2 separate regions of the Homo sapiens genome follow, and region 2 is linked to region 1. Evidence: fine-mapped expression QTL. Tissue or cell type: T cells. Region 1 holds a variant in brackets; the other region holds the start of a gene. All regions are shown on one strand. Distances are from middle to middle.

Region 1 (8,369 bases):
ACAGGTATGGAAACAATGGGGTGGAAATGGGATAGTATCTTTCATGATTAAGTCTAATGTGTTTGTTACTCATCAAATTATTGCTTCTCCTCTCCATGACTTGGGGCTCTGCTGACTTGGCATTTGGGGATCCAAGAGATAACTGCTTCTATAAGAAGACAAAACAATGTTTCCACTGCTGGTCATTTTGGGCTCTTATACCACAGGCAAAAAAAAAAATAAAGAAGGTCATGATGTTGACTGGGATGACTGGTCCTGAATAATCTTGATCATCATGGGAAAGAAGGCTGCTGCTTCAAAGTGGGGATGTGGAAATCTTAAAAATTTTGATATAGAGTCTCACTCTCTCACCCAGGCTGGAGTGCAGTGGCACTATCATGGCTCACTATAGCCTTGACCTCGGGATAGGAAAATCTTAATAGAACTCAGGTCTGCTATTCTGGAGCAGGTCTTAAACAACCATATCCAACGGAAAAAGTTAATGGAAGACTGCTATATCCCTGAAGACAGATTTACCAAGGAAGTAATTCTTATGAGGTGAGTTTGGTAAGAAACTCCAACTTACTGAGTTCTTTTGTGAAGGCAAAGGGAACATGACACAAATTACAGAGAGGAAAATTTATACATGTCAACCACAGCCCCATAAGCAATTACAGAATAGGGACTGTCACCTCTACCCATATTTCTTTCCTCGTTGGGTATATATTTATACATTTTAATGAATTTTAAAATTCCTCATCCCCACTTGTACCATTTATATTTGGTGTGCAAAAGTGGTTAATTATACAATTTCTTTTTTTCTTTTTAAAAATATCAGGTTTACTGAGGCCTAATTTTCTTTTTTAACAGGGTCTCACTCTGTTGCCCAGGCTGGAGTGCAGTGGTGCAATCTTGGCTCACTGCAACATCTGCCTCCTGGGTTCAAGCGATTCTTGTGCCTCAGTCTCCCAAGTAGCTCGGATTACCAGTGCCTGCCACCACGCCTGGCTATTTTTGTATTTTTAGTAGAAACGGAGTTTCACCATGTTGGCCAGGCTGGTCTTGAACTGACCTCAGGTGATCAGCCTCACAAAGTGCTGGGATTACAGGCATGAGCCACCGCACCTGGCCAAATTTTTTTCAAATATTTTAAATCAGCAATTGATTGAATCTGAAGATTCAGAACCTCAGAGGGAAACTATGTTGTTCAGAAGACTTACAGATTTGATTAGCTCAAGACATTTTAAAGTATGCATGGTGAAATTTTAATGGTAACCACGAAATAATAAAATTAGAATGTATAATTTCCAAACCAATAGAGAGAAGATATATGCAAAAGAAAGAAAAGAAAGGAAGAATGGGGGGGAAGGAGGGAGGGAGGGAGGGAGGGAGGGAGGGAGAGAGGGAAGGAAGGAAGGAAAGAAAGATTGGCAAAAATCTAAAATGAGACAAGAAATGTGTATATGCGTGTGGTGGGGGGAATATAATGAAAAGGGGACAAAGCACAAAGCAAGGTGATGGAAATAAGGCCAAATATATCATAATTACAATAAAGTTAATGACCTAAAAGTGCCATTTAGGACAGAGATACTTAAATTTGAAATAAAAACAAAGTCCATTAATATACTGTACAATAGGCTCACTTAAAACATAAGTCAACAGGTTGAAAGCAAAAAGATGAAAAAGACTAATCCAGACAAATACTAACAAAAGAAAGCTGAGGTAGTTATATTAATATTAGAGAAAATGGATTTTAAGACAAAAACATTATTAGGAAGGAAGAAGTTTGTTATATAATTTTAAAAATAGGGGGTTATAAGTACACAAAAAAATTGGTTAAAAAAATAAAAAAGATTTGAATAACACAATTAATTTGTTTTGTTTTATTTTTGGAGGTAGGGTCTCACTCTGTCGCCTAGGCTGGAGTGCCATGGTGCGATCTCGGCTCACTGCAATCTCTACCTCCTGGGTTCCAGTGATTCTTCCACCTCAGCCTCCCCAGTAGCTGGACTACAGGCATGTGCCACCATGCTTAGCTAATTTTTATATTTTTTGGTAGAGACAGGGTTTCACTATGTTGGCCAGGCTGGCAGGATTAGTTTTTGATCACACAATAGAACACAATAGAACATCTAAAAATTAGGGAATATTCATTCTTTTCAAGCACATGTGGAACATTTATAAAAATTAAATACTAGTCCATAAAGTGTCAGCAAATTTCAAATAACTGCTATAATAATAGCATTCTCTGACTACACTAGAATTAAATGAGATGTTAATAATCAAGAAAAAGGCTGTCTGTGCTGGCTCACACCTGTAATCCCAGCACTTTGGGAGGCTGAGGTGGGCGAATCACCTGAGGTCAGGAGTTCAAGACCAGCCTTGCCAACATGGTGAAACCCTGTCTCTACTAAAAATACAAAAATTAGCCAGGCGTGGTGGCAAGTGCCTGTAATCCCAGCTACGTGGGAGGCTGAGACATGAGAATTACTTGAACCTGGGAGGCGGAGGTTGCAGTGAGCCGAGATCGTGCCACTGCACTCCAGCCTGGGCAACACAGCGAGACTCCATAGGAAAGAAAGAAAAGAAAGAAAAGAAAGAAAGAAAGAAGGAAAGAAAGAAGGAAGGAAGGAAGGGAGGAAGGGAAAGAAGAAAGAAAGAAAGAAAGGAAGGAAGGAAAGAAAAGAAAGGAACTCTCCATGTATTTATAAATTTAAAAACACACTTCTAAAAATGTCAATACTCCCCAGATTGATATATAAGTTAAATAAAATTTCTACTAAAATCTCAGCAAGGTTTTATGTAGAATACACAAAATTAGTCCCCAAATTTATGTGAAAAGACAAATAGAATAGCCAAAATAATTTGGAAAAAAGAATAAAGTGGGGGAACCAGTCTTCCCAATTTCAAGATTTTTATAGAGCTACACTAATCATGACTGTGTGGTATTGGCAGAGGGAGAGATACAGATCAATATAACAGGATAGAGAACTCAGAAATAGACCTACACAAAAATGTCTAACTGATTTTTGACAAAGGTGCAAAAGCAATTCAATGACGAAAAGATAGCCTTTTCAACATACGGCACTGGAGTAATTGAAGATCCATATGCAAAACAAACAAACAAAAACACATGAACTTTGAAGTAAGTCTCATACTTTCTACAAATATTAACTCAAAATAGATCACAGACTTAAGTGTAAAGAACAAGACTATAAAACTTTTAGGAAAAAAAATAGGAGAAAATATTTGAGACCTAGCACTAGCAACAATTTCTTAGACTTGACACCAAAACATAATTCATAAAAGGAGAGATTGATAAATTGGACTCTATAAAAAATTAAAAAACTGTTGCTTTCTCAGAAACCCTGTTGACAAGATAAAAAGAAAGGCTAAAAACTGAAGAAAACCACATATCCAACAAAGGATTAGTATCCAGAATATACTCTCAAAAGAACCCTCAAAACTCAACAGTAAAAAATAATCCAATTAGATGCCAAATGAGCACATATAAAGATGTTTAATATCATTAGCCATTAGGGAAATGCAAATTAAAGCCACAATAAAATATTAGCATATACTCTCTCTAGTTAAAATAAAAAATTTTGACAACATCAAATGCTGGCAAGTATGCAGAGAAACCAAATCATTCATATATTGCTGGTGGGAATGTAAAATAGTAGAGCTGAATTGAAAAACAGATTGGCAGTTTCTTAAAAAAAAACAAACTAAATGAAGTATGACTCAACAATTACACTTCTAGGCATCTATCTCAGAGAAAGACAGACTTATATTCATATAATAACCTGTATATGAATATTCACAGCAGCTTTATCCATAAATCCTTAAACTAGAAACAACTCAGATGTTCTTCAGTGGGTGAATAAAGAGTGGTACATCCATATTATGGATTATTCCTTAGCAATAATAACAAATTATTGATAAAGGCAATGATCTGGATAAACCCCCAGGGAATCATGCTGAGTGAAAAAAATCCCAAAAGGCTATATACTGCATGGTTCCATTTATACAATTCTTGAGATAACAAAATTATAGAAATAGAGAACAGATTAGTGGTTGCCAGGGCCTAAGACAGTAATAGGAAGGAAATGCACGTGGCTGTAAAAGAACAACACAAGAGATCCTTGTGGTGATGGAATTGTTCTGTATCTTGACTGTATTAATGTCAATATGATTGGAACTGCATTCAGAATGGTGGAGTAAAAATCGCCAAAAATTGATTTCTTCAGAAAAGCAATGAGAGCACTGGCAAAAAATTGTTAAAATCAACATTTTTAGAACTCTGAAAATTAACCAAAGGCTCACAAAAGTCTGAGGAGCATTTTCACACACACACACACACACACACACACACACACA[T/C]GGCTAAATCTCATAAGAAGAGCAAGACTGGTGGCATTTTAACTTGTCCTATTGCCATCCCTCTTTCTGTAGTTCCATAGTAGCCTTGGAAACCAACAACCTTCAATCATGGTAACCCTGAAAACCAGCAACCTAGCAGTCACTGAAGCAGGCAGAATGGGCTTGGAGTTCCCCTAAATGCTCATCTTCCATTAGTTATTCTTTGACTTGTCTGGCAGTTTCCTGGAAACCACAGGGGCTCTCAGGGTTGGTCTTTATTGGAACTGACTCAGGGTTCATTTACTGTGAACAGCCTTTTCTTTGGAGTATTTATGGAAAACAATTAGTGGCAATTGTTTAACATCTCAGGTGCCTGAGGTGATAACATTTGGGGGAAAAAAAGATTATAAGGAAAAACTGAGGAATAAGATTTTTTTTTTGACATGGAGTCTTGCTCTGTTGCCCAGGCTGGAGTGCAGTGGCACGACCCTGGCTCACTGCAAACCTCTGCCTCCTGGGTTCAAGTGATTCTCCTGCCTCAGCCTCCTGAGTAGCTATGATTACAGGCATGTAGCACCATGCCCGGCTAATTACTGTATTTTTAGTAGAGATGGGGTTTCACCATGTTGACCAGGCTGGTCTCGAACTCCTGGCCTCAAATTATCCGCCCACCTCGGCTTCCCAAAGTGCTGAGATTACAAGCATGAGCCACCTTGCCCAGCTGGATTAAGAAGTTTATAAGTGTGTTTGGAAAGCTTAATCAGATTTCCCGGAAATGTAGATGACCACATGCATGTACAGGTGACCACATGCATGTACAGGCTGTATCCCTGCCCAGAACTATGTGCGTACCCAGGAAAGGTTTGAGAAGACCTTAATCTCTAACCACTGGCAGACCTTGAGGTTCTGCACAAGCAGAAAGTAAAGACTAAAGCAGAGTTGTCTAGTGTGTGGTACAGCTTTATGGATATGTCCCAACACACACACACAGACCTTTGGCAAAGGCTGGGAGACTTATCAATTCAAAGCATTTAAGAAAATATCTGTCCATTTATTACCTGATCACTAAGCTAAGAAAGCAGAGGCTATAGTGGCCAAACGTTACAAAGAATACAGACTTTACAGAATTAATTTAGGAAAGTAACTAGACAAACAGGAGCAACAGCAATTGCAAGAATAAATTCTGGGGAAGAGGGGGAATCTGATTTCCAGAGTTGCCACATTTTATTATTTAAAACATCTAGTTTTCAATAAAAGTGTATAAGATATGCAGAGAAACAGGAAAAATAACCTATACACCGTGGGGGCTGGGTGGGGGGAAGCAATGAATAGAAACTGTCAGGAAGCCCTGATGTTGGATTTACTAGACAAAGACTTTAAATAGGATAGTATAAATGTGTTCAAACAATTAAAGAAAACTATATCTAGAGAACTAAAGAAGAGCATGAGAATAATGTCTCACTAGAAAATATTGATACAAAGATACAATTATAAATGAGGACCAAACAGAAATTCCAGAGTTGAAAAGTACAATAACTGAAATGAAAAATTCACTAGAGGAGCTCAATAGTAGATTCAAGCTAGCAGAAAGAAATATCAGCAAACTGGAAGAAAGGTCAATTGAGATGCCCCAATATGAAAAACAGAGAGAAAAAGAATAAAGAAAATGAAGAGTTTCAGAGATCTGTGAAACACCATGAAGTGTACTATCATACATATAAAATAAATCAAAGAAGCAGAGGGGAGAGACCTAAAAAGAATACTGGAAGAAAAAAAGGCCAAAACTCCCCAAATTTGTGAAAAACATTAATCTACACATTTTAGAAGCTCAGCAGACTCAAAATACGAGAAACTCAAAAAGATTTGCACCTAGACACATTATAATCAAATTGTTGAAAGCGAAGGACAAACAGAATCTTGAAAGCAGTGAGAGAGAAGTAATTCATCACATATAAGGGATCCTCGGTAAAACTAACAGCTGATTTCTCATTAATGTCAGTATCTTGATTGTGATATTTTCTATAGTTTTACAAATAGGAGAAATTTTACAAATTGGGAGGAAACTGGGTAAAGTGTACACAGGATCTCTTTCTATTATTTCTTACAGCTGCATGTGAATCTATAATTATCTCAAAATTTAATTAAACATACTCCTGAAACAATACTTCAATCCAAGATGAAATTGTAATAAAAGTGTAAAAAATATTTAGAAATGAACAATAATAAAAATACTGTGTATCAAGACTTGGGAAACAAAATAGTAGTGGTAATTCAAGGTAAACTTATATAGTCTTGTATGCTTATATTAGAAATTAAAACCTGAAAATGACATAATTAAGCACCCAACCGATGACAGTAGAAAATAAAGAATGAACTCAAAGAAAGTAAAAGGAAGCACATAAAAATTATTAAAGCAACAATCAAGAAAATACAATAGCCACGCACAGTAGTGTGTACCTGTAGTCCTGACTACTTGGGAGGCTGAGGTGAGAGGACCATTGGAGCCCAGAAATTTGAGTCCAGTCTGGATAACACAGTGAGATACCACCTATAAAAACAAAATAAAATGAGATATTTTTAAAAAGTATTTTAAAAAGTACAATAGAGGGGATCAACAAATTCAAAGCTTGTTACATAGGGAAGAAACTAATAAAATTGACAAACTACAGGGGGCAGGGGGAGGGGAGAAGAGAGAGGGAGAAAAAATATTAGTAATGCAAAGGGGGACATAACTACAGAAGGATCAGAGATGAAAAAAAAAGTTTTTTAAAACTTAGATGAACAAAATCCTAGGAAAACATACTTCAAGAAGAAATAAGTCCTATGACCAGTAAAGAAATTGAAGTTAATAAAAATCTTCTTACAATGAAGCCATCAGGATTAAATAATTTATATGATCTGAATGTCCCCTAAAACTCATATTGTTTCAAGTTGAAGCAGTCTCACCAATATAATAGTATTAAGAGGTAGGTAATTCTTCTGTGTCAAAACAGGGGGGATAATAAAACAAAGAGGTAACCCCTTTAGGTAATGATTAATTCATGAAGTGGAGTCCTCATGAATGGGATTAGTGACTTTATAAAAGGGCCCAAAGAACTAGTCAGTTCCTTTTGCCCTTTCATCTCTTCTGCCATGTGAGGACATAGTGTTCATCCCCTGAAAGAGGCAGCAACAAGGCGCTAACTTGAAAGCAGAAACTAGGTCCTCACCAGGCACCAAACCTGCTGGCACCTTGATCTTGGACTTTCCAGCCCCCAGAACTGTGAGAAAATAAATTTCATTTCTTCATAAATTACCCAGTGTCAGGTATTTTGTTACAGCAGCAGAAACACAGTAAGATAGTGAGTTCTACCAACTTTTCAATAAACAGCTTATTCCAATGTTATACAAACTCTTATAGAAAATAGAAAAAGAGAAAATATTCTCGACTCATTTATGAGGTAAATAAAACTTGATTCCCTAAACAATCTAATTATAGACAATCTCACTTTGGAGCCTATATGTAAAAATATTAAAGTATTAGCAAACCAAATCAGTGAGATATTTTAAAAAGGTAATAAATAATGAGAAAGTCAGGCTAATCCAGGGATGCAAGAATGGTTTAATACATATATTTTTTGTAAGCAGAATTTTCCATTGCTAAGAGAATGGTTTAATATTAGGGAAACAATTATTCACATTAAAGATTAAAGGGGTACTTGGTATGGAAAAAAACAAACTCAGTTTCTCCTACTATACCCTCACAACACAGAACACTTCCGTGACTCCAGATGTGTGGGGGTTTATACCCACACATCAAGCAAGCAATCAGTTCTGCAGCAGATAACATCTGAGTGTCTTTTAGTTCTATTTGATTCTGACACTATCCACCCGGAGTTCTCTACCCATAGGTTGAGAGATCAGTCCCACAAGACTCCTCTCCACTTTGGATGCAAGTTGCAAGCATAGATTGTGCTTACATTGTGCAACCTGAGTTTCTGACCAATTGGCTATAAATTGAGGATTCCCATGACTCCCTCCTTGGGTTTGAT
Region 2 (6,000 bases), 47 kb before region 1:
AACAAGGCCATCCGCGACCAGGGCAGACTAAGACAAAAATGAAACTACTCCTTAATCATATCTGAACACAGACAAAACATGAATATTGTCAAATCACAGAAATGACCCAAATCCCCCTGTAGAGCTAAGCTGAGTGGAGGCTGCTGGTTTACCAGCTGTAGCTTCAGCCTTGCTCTAGTCTGCTTTCCTTCTAGGCAAGATGTATTAAGACTCCCAATCATAGTGTTAGCTCCACTTCCTGACAGCATCAACCCAGAACAAAGCCTCACTTCCTTAACCTCTCCCCAATCACCTAACACAACTCCAAACATTAGACTAAGTCCTTTCTAACGCCCCCTTCCTGGGACGCCCCATGATCCCCATGGTGCATGCTCTCCCTTGTTGCAACGAGTCATCAGCTCAGCTTGTTCACCCACACGTGTGTTTCTGGTGATCTCTGGTTGGAGGCATTGAAAGTTCCTACCTCATTGGGTTGTCGTGAGGAATATGTACTTGAAATGATACAATCCTAAGGCTCTTTCAATATGCTTGTCATACTTTATTATTATCCCCATTTCACAAGGAGGACACTGAAGCTCAGAGAGAGGGCCAGACTTTGCCCAAGGTCACACAGCTGGTAATGACAGAGAAAGGATGTAAATTCAGGCCTCATTCCAAAGCTAGTTTCCTGAATCCCTGCCTCCATGCTCCATGCTCATAGGGCAGAAACCAACAAGACAACTTGGGTTGGTGTTTGGAGAGGAGAAGAGCAAAGGGCCCTTGGAACTCAAAAGAGAGCCTCAGGCTGGAGAAGCAGGGTATCCAGGATGACCTGAGTGACCCTCTCCTCCTCCCCTCCCTTTCATGACTCCCCAACTGGATCCTCCAAGGGCTCCCTCCCAGACTGCCTGGCTGCTGAGTAATGCAGAGCCAGTCAGGCCCAGAGTAGGGGTCAGTGTCAGCAGAGTCGGAGGCCTGAGTCACTTCCTGACCCTTGCTCAAGAGCATCCGGAGCTACAGCCAGAGTGGCCACTCGTGCTCTCAGAAGATCGCACCCACTTGGGCGATGAGCATGTCCTTGGTATCCCCACCTTCCTGGGCTCACCTCTGCCCCACTCAGGTGTTTAAGACGTGCAGCAGAGAGGCGCCATCCTGACCTGGTGCCACATCCTAGCCCCTTTCCTTACTGGATCCTCAAACCAGAAGAAAACCTGAATCTCTGAGGTCAGTTACTCTCTTTTGCCTGCGTCTAGCCTAAAATCTGGCTTCCAGGACCCCACCCCAACTTCAGAATCAAGGTACCTTGCACTGGTGCCACTGATCCCAAAGGTCCAAAACTCCTGCAGCACTCACAGGCAAGCGACCCCGTTCCTTAGGCTCTCATGGGGTCTCAGGGCCAGAGTAGGGGGTGGGGGAGGGAAAAGGCTGGGGAAAATATCAGATACCCCAGGGCAGGATGGACTGAGGGAGACATGGTTGGATCAGTAGACATGTCCTTATGATGTGGGCAAGGCCATTTCCTTTGAGGAGCAATTCTGTCAACTCTAGGCCACCGCATAGCCTCGCAGCCAAGAGCAGGGACTCTAGAATCAGGCTGTACTTGCTTTCACCCAGCTCTGCCCTTACCAGCTGTGTTACCTTGGGCAAATTACTTAGCCTCTCTGTACCTCGGGTTCCTCATCTCTAAAATGAGGATAATCATATTACTGACTCACAGGCCTCTTACCAGGATTAAGTGAGTTATATAAAACACTTAATGACGGGCACATGGCAAACACAAGTGTGTATTAAATGACTCTTTTACATCTAATGGGCTGACTCCTCCATTCATTCTCCACACATTTGCTGTTATATTGCCATGTGCCAGAAATGAAAAAGACAGATTGCCTGACTGAAATAATGGCAGGTGTTGTTGTGTGATGATGGCACCCCACCCTCATCTCAGAATGATCTTCCAGGCTGTGCCTGAGGCTGCAGGACTGCCCGGGAGGGCTTGGGGCACAGAGTTTGGGGGCTGCAGACTCCCTAGTGTGGGCCCCCGGCTTGCTGTAAGCCCCTAGCAAATTTCTTTCCTTGTTCAATAGACCTTCTTTTTGACAAAGTGAAGCAGGTGGTCCCCGCCCCTTCCACAGCCCCATGCCTGGGCAAGAGAGGGGTTGGACAAGTCAGGCTGGGCATCCAGAGCCCTTGCAGCCATCTCCTCCCCCCACCTGCCCACCTTGCTCCTCAGAGGCCTTTGTGGTTTGAGCAAAGAATCTCCATCAGGCTGCACAGGCCACCAGACAGGTGGCAAGGGCCCCAATTAGTCATTGTCCTCATAGAGCCTTAGGAAGTCCACAGAAACTGTGTTCAAAACTGCACATTTGGGCCAGGTGCGGTGGCTCACTTCTGTAATCCAAACACTTTGGGAGGCTGAGGTGGGCGGACCACCTGAGGTCAGGAGTTGAAGACCAGCCTGGCCAACATGGTGAAACCCCGTCTCTACTAAAAATACAAAAATTAGCTAGGAGTGGTGGTGTGCACCTGTAGTCCCAGCTACTCAGGAGGCTGAGGCAAGAGAATTGCTTGAACCTGGGAGGCGGAGGTTGCAGTGAGCTGAGATGGCGCCACTGCACTCCAGCCTAGGCAATAGAGTGAGACTCCATGTCAAAAACAAACAAAAATCCTGCACATTTGAACCTGCGTGGATATTTGGTATTATAGAATTAGTGCTATTAATTTTAGGTTTAAGAATGTATTGTGGGCCAGGCGCGGTGGCTCACGCCTGTAATCCCAACACTTTCGGAGGCCGAGGCGGGTGGTTCACGAGGTCAGGAGTTCAAGACCAGCCTGGCCAAGATGGTGAAACCCCATCTCTATTAAAAATACAAAAATTAGCCGGGTTTGGTGGCAGGCACCTACAATCCTAGCTAATCGGGAGGCGGAGGCAGAGAATTGCTTGAACCCGGGAGGCGGAGGTTGCAGTGAGCCGAGATGGCAACTGCACTCCGACAGAGTCTCAAAAAATATATATATATAGTATTGTGGATACGTACTTTTAAAAATCCTTACGTTTTAGAGATACAAAAATATTTATGAATAAAATGATATGACGCCTGGGTTTTGCTTCAAAACGATGGTGGGAGAGGAATGTGGATGAAATAAAATTGATTATGAGTTGTGGTTGCTGGGGAATTGGGGTCACGGGGGTTCATTAGAACCTCCTATCAGATGTGGTTCAGAAGCCTCAGACCTGGGAGCTGGCTAGAAATGCAGAATCTCGGCTCCACCCCAAACCTACTGAGTCAGGATCTGTATTTTAATCAAATAAAATGCCCAGGGGATTCCTGAGCACACTGAAGTGTGAGAAGCGCTGGCTTACTCTGTTCAATTCTTTCCTGCATGTTTGACATTTTCCATAATGAAGAGGTTGTGGGGTTTTGTTCTGCTTTCCTGTGTGTTCACAGTCACAGGGAGCTCTTCCTACGGAGACCGGGGCTGGAGGGAACTGGGAAGCACTGCCTCCCCGCTCCTGCTTGGACCCACCAGCCCCGCCGCTGGCCCGCGCTCGGCTGGGAGGCACCGGGGTCCCGCTGGGCAGCCCCGACCCCGTGCCTGGGCCGCACCTGCCGCAGTGGCTCCGTCGGGCCGGGCGGAAGCGCGGGAGCGCAGGGCTGGACAGGCCCGGGCGTGGCGGCCCCGGCGCACCTGGGCGAGCCGGCAGGTGGGAGCGTAGCAGCCCGGGGCCCCCGCCCTCGCGCGGGGGAGGAGCGGGCGGCGCGGGGCGGGCGCAGCGGGGGTCGGGGCGCTGGGAGCCCGTTGGGCCGCGAACGCAGCCGCCACGCTGGGGCCGCCGAGATCGGGTGCCCGGGATGAGCCTCATCCGGAAAAAGGGCTTCTACAAGCAGGACGTCAACAAGACAGCCTGGGAGCTGCCCAAGACCTACGTGTCCCCGACGCACGTCGGCAGCGGGGCCTATGGCTCCGTGTGGTGAGACCCCTGGGCCGCTGGGGGGCGGGGGGCGGGCGCCAGGCTCTCCCCTTTCCGCCCAGCCCGCCCTGGGCTGGCCCCTCGCCAGCGCCACCTTGACCGCGGACCTCAAGGCCCAGCGCCCTCCCCGGGGCCACCCAGCGGCCATCTCCCTTTTCTCACCGAGTGGCTGAGTGAGGTCTCTGGGGGTTGAGTTGGGACTGGGCCTGGTTCTCCAGGACTGTACACTTGCAAGACCCCAGAGTTCATCGGGCAGATCCTCACTGTTACAGACGAGTACACCGAGGCCCCAAGAGGGGGAGGTGGCTCGCCAAGTTGCAGACAGAGTGAGACTCCCGCCCTGCCGTGGATCCCGTCGCAATGAGACGTTGCTGCCCCTGGCGCTGTGCCCCTCTCTCAGCTCCTGCCTGGCTTCCTACTCCCTGCCCTGCGTCCCGCGGCTCCCCCATATTCTAGGTGGTGGGCCTAGTCCCCTCTCAGCCCAGCTGCCCAGTGGGAGGGGTCAGGGCGGTCTGGGAGATACGGCCCAGGAGGAGAGCCTCGCCTGCTGACCGGCCTGTGCCCGACAGCTCGGCCATCGACAAGCGGTCAGGGGAGAAGGTGGCCATCAAGAAGCTGAGCCGACCCTTTCAGTCCGAGATCTTCGCCAAGCGCGCCTACCGGGAGCTGCTGCTGCTGAAGCACATGCAGCATGAGAACGTAGGTGGTGGCTGCCCCGGGGAGGGGGTGGGGGCTGCCCTGGGGAGTCAGGGGCAGGCGCAGGCGGGGCCTCCCGGTATGGAGAGCTCGGGACAGTCTCCTCCCTGCTCCCCTGACGGTGCCTCTCGCCTCACTATTGAAAGGAGGGGGTGCCGAGACCTTCCCTGCCCACTTTCCAGGAAGAGGTCAAAGGGTATTTTTGGCAGAATGCACTTTGTGAGGTACAGACTGTGTTATCCTACAGAGGAAATTGGCACAGGGGAACTTTGTAATTGGTTCCATGTCTGAGAGCTTGTGGCCAGCTGGGACTAGAATCCTAGTTAGCGTTGTGTCCACGTGACCCTGATAACAATAGCAATATACACATATTGAGCACTTCCTATGTTCTAAGAGCTCTGCATACACTAACTTGTCTAGTCCTCATGATATATGAGTACTACTGCCCCCATGTCACAGACAGGAAACTAAAGCACAGCAAGGCTCACAGATTAGATGGTTAGTCAGTAGCAGAGCTGGGGTTTCAATCTCGGCAGCGAGGCTCCCGGTCTGAGCACATGACCATCAGATTGTCTTGTCTGATAGAAGCAGCTGGGAAAACCAGGGGCCCAGCTCAGGGCCTGGCAGCCAGGCTTTGCTGCAGGATACCTAGATTGGAGGGCAGACATTTCAAAGAATGATTTCAAAATGTTATGTACATTTTAAGCCCATCCTTCTCCAGCAAACCCCTCCCCTATGGCCTCCAGCCAGGGTGATCTTGCCCTTGGCTCTGAACCAGCCCTGTGGCAGGCAAGGATGGATGTGGCTGGAGACCCAAGGTCAGGGGCAGGGAGTTTGCTGGCTGAAAAGCTCCTTCTCTGTTCCCTCCTTTTTCCCTTCCACCCTCCCCTTATGCTTTCCTGCTGCCTAGGTGAGTTGAGAGTGGGTTTGTGTTGCTTGCCCTGACACCAGACTTGACAGCAATGAGCACACATCATTCTCCCCACCTTCCCTTCTCCCCAGCCTGACTCTCTGTCATGATTTATTGCAAACTCCCTCCAAATCCAGGGGATTCCTCTAGGCCTCTGCCCTTTTTACTGCTTCCAAGAAGGTTGGAGACATGCCTCCTGCTGGAGGTGGTGTATTAGGAAAGGGTGGATGGCCCTGTGCATGGCCAGGGCCCAGGAGGAGGTGGGAGGAGAAGGTAGCGTCTGTCTAGCCCTCACAGGTGACTTCTTCCCCAGGTCATTGGGCTCCTGGATGTCTTCACCCCAGCCTCCTCCCTGCGCAACTTCTATGACTTGTGAGTTGGGCTGCACTGGGTTCTGGGGCATTTGCAGGCCTTACATGCCGCTGGGGAGCAAGGTGGGGGAGGG

Evidence for each region. PIP is the estimated chance that this variant, and not a neighbour inherited with it, causes the effect.
Region 2: MAPK13 starts here. The variant in region 1 is fine-mapped to the expression of MAPK13 in T cells (TOPMed, PIP above 0.99).

What each region holds. Positions count from the first base shown.
Region 1 is chr6:36,172,822-36,181,190 of GRCh38, forward strand. It overlaps BRPF3-AS1 (BRPF3 antisense RNA 1), which reads right to left. Exons shown (of 3, transcript NR_187147.1): 2 at 6,796-6,886. Among named protein-coding and RNA genes, the nearest start is that of BRPF3, 20 kb to the right of the region's middle. The variant T/C (reference allele first, on the strand shown) is at 4,360.
Region 2 is chr6:36,126,753-36,132,752 of GRCh38, forward strand. It overlaps MAPK13 (mitogen-activated protein kinase 13), which reads left to right and starts at 3,761. Exons shown (of 12, transcript NM_002754.5): 1 at 3,761-3,949; 2 at 4,519-4,648; 3 at 5,869-5,927. The coding sequence starts at 3,831. RefSeq lists silencers at 3,657-3,906, 3,947-4,016, 4,657-4,766 and enhancers at 3,912-4,515, 4,407-4,526, 5,237-5,486.